2 linked regions of the Homo sapiens genome follow. The protein of the gene in region 2 interacts with the protein of the main gene of each other region in a biochemical or structural test. Each region holds a gene or a part of one and is shown on either strand. Other genes may lie near its edges.

The links.
Region 1: the proteins of OTUD6B (region 2) and LIN28B form a complex in vitro, tested with the Homo sapiens proteins (one study listed by BioGRID).

The regions. Positions count from the first base shown.
Region 1 is NC_000006.12:105,072,013-105,075,766, reverse strand, and holds part of LIN28B (protein lin-28 homolog B), read right to left. Parts: intron 1-3,754. UniProt on the Homo sapiens protein: Suppressor of microRNA (miRNA) biogenesis, including that of let-7 and possibly of miR107, miR-143 and miR-200c.
Region 2 is NC_000008.11:91,068,650-91,072,403, forward strand, and holds the start of OTUD6B (deubiquitinase OTUD6B), read left to right. Parts: upstream 1-1,694; 5' UTR 1,695-1,735; coding exon 1,736-1,817; intron 1,818-2,488; coding exon 2,489-2,640; intron 2,641-3,754.

The DNA.
Region 1 (3,754 bases), on a different chromosome or scaffold from region 2:
TGCCCACTCATTGACCAGGAGCCTGATGTCAGTATTCTACTTTCACAAATGGGATCTTCAATTACCCTCTATCTGTGCATTTACCATTAGATTTGGGCTATAAAAGTTATTTTTAAGGATGCTATATAATTTTGGTTTCCTTACATTTTGATCTGCATAGTTAATTCACCCCCTTGGCTTTCCTGATATGTGCTATCATTAGGCCAGACTTTCTTCCACATTGAAAAGATTTGCATTTAGTGTCTATGTGCTTAGCCTTAAAAGGGGGAGGAGTGGTATTTATATTCTCTTCTATTTAATCATTCAGTGTCAATCACTCTTACTAAGAGTACAGATCACTCTCCATTATGAAACCCCTTCCTTCCCAAGGGACTGACACCAAAATAGAAATGTTCAGCTACCTTGCAGCTCACAAATTATACCACAACTATATACTCCATACAAGCTATACATGATTTTAGTCCCCTTTGTTCACCCTCCACACTGTTCCACATCAGTTTGCCTTTGTAGTTGGAATGAATTTTACATTGTGATGTGAGCATAAAAATATCATGTGTGTCCATTTTTAGCTATATGCTTAAGAAATATAAGGACATAGTCTCACACAAAAGACCATACAAAGAAAACTATACTCATACTTTATTATATATTCCCATAGTCCAACATAAAAAATAAAATTATTCATGCTAAGTACTTTATTAAATGCTGAACCAATGGCACAAAGGATATTTTCTCATGCATTACAAATAAGATAAAATAGGCCAAGTGCAGTGGCTCATGCCTGTAATCCCAGCACTTCTGGGAGGCTGAGGCGGACAGATCACTTGAGGTCAGGAGTTTGAGACCAGCCTGGCCAACATGGCAAAACCCTGTCTCTACTAAAAATACAAAAAATTAGCCAGGTGTGGCGGGGCACACCTGTAGTTCCAGCTACTCAGGAGGCTGGGGCAGGAGAATTGCTTGATCCAGGGAGGCAGAGGCTGCAGTGAGCCAAGATTGATTCACTGCATTCCAGCCTGGGCAACAGGGCTAGACTCTGTTTTAACAAACAAAGATAAAATAAACAAAAATGTTCAGTTTAATCTTAGACGGTTATCAAGTTCTTCATAAAATCATTTTATAAATACTGTAATTCTAATGAGCTAGCATATTCTACAAGTATTATTTCTTATTTAAGGAGCGTTTAAAGATAGAAGATAATTAACAATCAAATCAAAGTCAACATTTTTGAGACACTATCAAAATAAGATTTATAATTTCAGATTTTAAGGCCTGACGCGGTGGCTCACGCCTGTAATCCCAGCACTTTGGGAGGCCGAGGTGGGCAGATCACGAGGTCAGGAGATCGAGACCATCTTGGCTAACATGGTGAAACCCTGTCTCTGCTAAAAATAACAAAAAATTAGCCGGGCATGGTGGCGGGGGCCTGTAGTCCCAGCTACTTGGGAGGCTGAGGCAGGAGAATGGCGTGAACCCAGGAGGCGGAGTTTGCAGTGAGCTGAGATTGCACCACTGCACTCCAGCCTGGGCGACAGAGCGAGACTCTGTCTCAAAAAAAAGAAAAGATTTTAAATGAAAGAATGGCAACAATGGATAGAATAGAGGCACTTATGATGGTTAAATAAATAAAAACAAATTGTTTAGACCTTTAGAACTATTTAATTATATTCTGAAGTAATTACATGAGTTTTTAAAAATCAAGTCCAAACACCTACACTAGTTAATAAGTTAATCAAAACATACCCAAATTTCTGAGGATTTCATCAAAAAATGAAAACTAATTCAGAAATCAGAATTTAGATCTGCTATGACCATTAAAAATGTTTGCATTTTTTGATCCAAACAACTGAATAAGCAGATTATATTTTCAAATGATATCAGCAATAATGGAGCTGAGCACAGCGGACAACCACTAGGTTAAAATATAGACATTAATTTTTAAATAATATTCCAATGGTGTAAATGAAAATATTCATCAGTTATATATTCCCTCTCGATCCTGAGAGTGATGAAAAAAATTGGGAAGAGGGGCGATACCACAGAGGAAGATCCAGATTTGCTTGTCTAAAAGTATAATGGAAAAAAATGTATCTTAGGATTCTTCACAGTACTTGAACATTTTAAGTTAATAAGAATTTATATGTAAACTCAAATCCACATTCTGAGGGTCTGATGGGGGCATTAAGGATAATTTTGACAGTGATCTGTAAGCTTCTGAAGGGGAAGGAATTGTTGAAAGATAGTACGTAAAGCAGTATCAGGGACAGAGAAAAGAGTAGAGAAAGAAGTGCAAGCTTTGGGCAGGAAGAAGGTACGAATACAGAAAAGGAATTTCATAAAAATTCCTGGGAAAAACGGACTAAAAAAAGGATTAATAAAGTTTCCAAATGGGAGGCAGAGGGGCTAAAGAAAAGTCACAGATTGAAAAAAATTACAGGAACTAAACTGAAGGAAAAATAACTGATTCTTTGAAGAGATCATTTTAAACCTTGGTACAGTCCAACTAAAATCCAGAAATGATACTAATAACATTCCTCAGCTCTATTATTTTTTATTCTAGTATGTTTTAATACTTGTTATTTAATTAAAATTGTGTGCCAATCAACTGAACACATGGAAGTGCTGGATCACAGCCAGCTGGTGGTGGGGAGGTGGGTGGGCAGAAAGGTTATTAGAGAACCACAGAGAGCTGACAAGCAAAGGATCCAGAGCATATTGATGGAAGCAATCTGCCTACCCTGTACACCTCCTGAAGGTAAGAGGGGCAGATCCTGGAACCAACCTTCCTAAAGAAGGCCCCATTTTGTTCTGACTGATTCTACACAATCTAAATAAACATTTGGGTATTGTTTACTCACTCCACAGGACTAGCCCCAAAATACCAAGAGAGGAGTTAGGAAACTTTGATGAGTCACAGAACTAGTAAGTCTCTTTAATAGTGTACATGTCTTCTGACCTCTATCAACCTATACTTTAATGAATTAGTTTCTTTTATTTCATTCTTCTCATAACCAAATTCATAAGATTGTAAGCCAGTTAAACAATAACAATTTTAGTAAAGTTAATTTTTATTTAAGTATGTTTTCCATACTTAAATTTTTATATATTCTAAGTACAGTGGTAAAAACACTGAGTTTTCAAAAATAGTTAGTTGGTGATACTGATGATTTATGTTCTTTTAAAAAGTTTCCTAGATAATAAATACACATTTAACACCAGAAAAGTTTTCATTTGGATCTTCTGGAATATAGAAGCCAGCATCATGCCCCTCTGTTACCTTAATCATGCTAAAAACAAAATATTCTATATACAGAAGGACTAAACATACTTTTACTTTTAAGAGAATTAAAATGGTAATAACAGAAATAATAAACAGGTTCAATTCACTGAGAGCTTACTAAATTCTAGACACTGTGCTAAAGGTTTTTAATGTGTTATATAATTTAATCCACCCCCAAAGCCTATGAATTGGGAACTACAATATCTAAATTGTATTGATGAAGAAATTTAGAGATTATCTAGAAAGGAATTTTAATTGAAAGCAATTAAATTTCACTTCCATTTTGATTACATAAAAATGTTATACCCAACAATATTGATGTAATTTTATTATATGTAAGTCTAAAATATCTAGGATCTTGAATTTAAAACACTAATACACACACACACACACACACAGACACAAAAGAATTGAAGTAGACTTTTCCTGAGACTTTGTTACTGGGGAGGTCAGCGTGTTTCTTTGAGCATCCCA
Region 2 (3,754 bases):
TTTCCAATTGTCAGATTTGACATTTAGAATGTTATTTGTCAAATCTACAGTGACAAAGCCCTTTTACTTAGGTTTAGCTTAAGAACATGCGTATTTGTATCTACAATACTACATGCTAAAAATAAAACAGTATTTGTCCAATATATTGAACATGTGGTATGCCCTTCCAGTTTAAACGTAAACTGAAATTTTACACCCAGCTTATGTTTCTATTTTTGTATTTAGTTTTAATGCCCTATACATAACAATTTAAACTTAATGCTCCTTAACTAGTTTTAATGCATACCATCAGTTCTTTCATACAATTGCCTCCCTATTCTTATTTTAATTCAGGTTCTCTGTTAGCTGCAGTAAATCCTTCAGCAAAATTTTCAGGGAAAGTTCTTGGTTGATATACTTTCCTAACCCCTGTATATCTAAGAATGTCTTCCAGTTTCCTTTGTAAAGAAATGATAACTTGGCAGAGTATATAATTCTTGGCTCAAAATTATTTTCCCTTAACACTCTAGATATTGTTCCACTGTCTTCTGGCATTTAGAATTGCAGGAGAAAAATCTGAGGTCAGCCTGACTTTTGCCCCTTTGTAAGTAACCTGCTTTCTCTGACTGGATGCTTGTAAAATGTTTCGTCTTTGAAATTCAAAAACGTCACCCGGATATGTCTAGATGCTGCTTTCTTTTCATTAAACTTTAAAGGTATCCTATGAGCCTTTTCCATTTGTAGATCTAGTTCGTTCTTCAATTCTGGAAAATTTTTTCAAGTAGATCCTTTATTGTTTCAGCTCCACTTGCTCTGTCCTCAGTTTCAGGTATTCCTATTATGCATAGATTGTATCTCCTGGACCGGCCCTCTAGATCTCTCTTTTTCTCCTCTTAATTTCTTTTCCCCTTTTCTCTGTATTCTGTGACAATTTGTCGTTTTGCACTTACTTCAGTAATTCGATTTTGTGGCCAATCCAGCGTGCGCCCTTCTGTTAACTCTCTCAACTTCCTGGTATTTTCCAAGCGCTCTAATAGTACCCTCTTTATCATCGCGCATAGGTGTTTAAGCTCCTGTATTATATGATTCTCAATCCTTCTTATATCTTGTTTCCATCTCTATATCCGTTTCAAGAGGAGGCATTTTCTCGATTATTTAGCGCTGCTCCTTTTTTCTCAGGGGCGGTATTACGACCTTGGAGACAATAAACATAATTTAATTCCACACAGCCCCAAACAGCCCAAAGATTCCCATTGATAATTATCGACGGCTTTATTAAAATGCGTTATTTTTCTTTCTTACCTTTTCAGTTGCTTTTCTTAGAAACAGGGACCAAAATCAAAGATTAAAGAGGTCCTCTGAAGCAGGGAATGAAATAGACGTTGAAAACTATTCCCGTTACGCCATCTCTGCGCGCCTCACGTCAGGGCCAAGAGCCTAGCGCGTAGCTTTATGGCTGACTCGGCTCTGGCGCTCTAGCCAATTCCGAGGCTGCAAACTCCGCTTCTCCGCTCGCAGTCTGGTTCCTCCCCTGCCGCCCCGCCCATCACGGCAGGGTCACGGTAGCGCGCACGCGCAGCACCCCATTTAAGTTTCTCGTCTTTGCAGTGGCTTTGCTTAGATCCGGTGCCGCCTTGAAGGCGGGGCTGGGTCCCAGCCGTAGCCAATGGAGCCCCGGGTGAGGGTTGAGGGGTGGAAGGTGCCTACTAGCCGGTGCAGGTTTCTTCTAGCGCGTGTGCTGGGGTACCTGGTCGTCATGGAGGCGGTATTGACCGAAGAGCTTGATGAGGAAGAGCAGCTGCTGAGAAGGCATCGCAAAGAGAAGAAGGAGTTGCAAGGTGAGGCGGAAGGAAGTGGGAATCTGGAAGCCGCCGCGACTGGGGGAAGGGCGCGTGGCGGGTCGATTCTGGGGAATCTCAAGGCGTGACTTATCTGGATCACCCTAGACTTCCCCTAGTAGCAAGTGGCCTCTTCTCTCTTCACCTACCCCGGCGGCCCTTTAATTCCCCAACCTTCAGAGGCTTCCCCTTCTGAGGCCTGCGGCGTGCCCCCTACCCCGCGCCGCCGCCGGGGTGCAGGTGTCTGAAAATACCTAGAAGCCGCCGTCTTGGTCCGCTCCCAAACCCACGATGCCTCCCTTTTCTATACCTGCCCCAGTTACCGATACTTGTCCCTAATGGGTGTATTTTGAATGGACCCGCCTCAGTTTAGGAGGTTCAGAAAGGATACCGGAAAGATTTAAAACTGGCTACAGTCAGGTTTTTTTCCTTCTCTTATCTCGCCAAACAACCGAAACATATTCAAGATTTTGTTAATGAAGTTTTTTTTTTTTTTGGTCTCAGCTTTATCTGGGATCTTCTCTCTCTGTAGCTGCCTGTTACGTGATGACTCTTTCTTCCATAATTACTTTTTCTGTACCCTTCGCCCGTTACCATCCCCTTATTGGTTCCTGTTTCTCATCTCCTTTTACTCCTGCGTGTCTGACTTAATGATTTTAATGGCTTTTCAGCCAAAATTCAGGGCATGAAGAATGCTGTTCCCAAGAATGACAAGAAGAGGAGGAAGCAACTCACCGAAGATGTGGCCAAGTTGGAAAAAGAAATGGAACAGAAACATAGAGAGGAACTGGAGCAATTGAAGCTGACTACTAAGGAGAATAAGGTATGTGAAATAAATGTTTGTCGTTGCCTACACCATTTGAAAACAGCTGTCCACTTCTGTTAAATGTTAAACTGCTTTTTTTTTTTTTTTTGAGACGGTGTCTCGCTTTGCAAAACACGCTCAATCTTGGCTCACTGCAAGCTCCGCCTCCCGGGTTCAGGCCATTCTCCTGCCTCAGCCTCCCGAGTAGCTGGTACTACGGGCGCCCGCCACTACGCCCGGCTAATTTTTTGTATTTTTAGTAGAGACAGGGTTTCACCATGTTAGCCAAGACGGTGTCGATCTCCTGACCTTGTGATCCACCCGCCTCGGCCTCCCAAAGTGCTGGGATTACAGGCGTGAGCCACCGTGCCCGGCCCTGTTAAACTGTTTATTATCTAAAATCATAAAATTGGTAGGGAAATGAAATCACTTAGTTATGCTCATGCATCACTTCTCATTAATGTTTTTGTGACCAAGTTTACAGGGCAGTGTGTTTCTATAAGGGAGATCGGCAAAGAAAGTGCTATACTTCTTTACCTATTTACTTGCCCAAAAGATGAAGCTTCACCAAATCAAAGTTGGAAGACCAGGCATCTGATCCCAGAATTGCGACTGAATGGGATTGTAACCTGAGCAAGGTTACTTAATCTTTCTGAGCTCAAATTTTCCCACATATATAATACGATACAAATATTTCTACACTCTAAGCACAGGTTTTTGTAAGAATCAAGAAAGTGAACGTGAAGTCATTTTTGTTATAAAAGTGCTTTATTAACAAGTTGTAATGAATGAAATTTTACTGATGTTTCTTGGGTAAGTTGGAGCATCCTAACTTTCATAATTTTAACTAATATTTATTTTATCGTTGGATCTAATATATATGTGTCAAATACTTTGGTTTATATGTATTATCTCATTTAACCTCAGTAACACACTGTGAGGTATTACCTATGAAGTAAGTATACATAATCCCATTTTTCAAGTGGGAAACAGGGTTAGAGAGATTAAGAACTTTGTCCAGGAGTCGTAACAGCTGTTGATTGCCAAAGCCAGAATTCCAAATGAGAACTATCTTACTCCAGGAAGTGAATACTGAATTCTGTTACAGCTTTGTATAGTGTGGTATTTATTG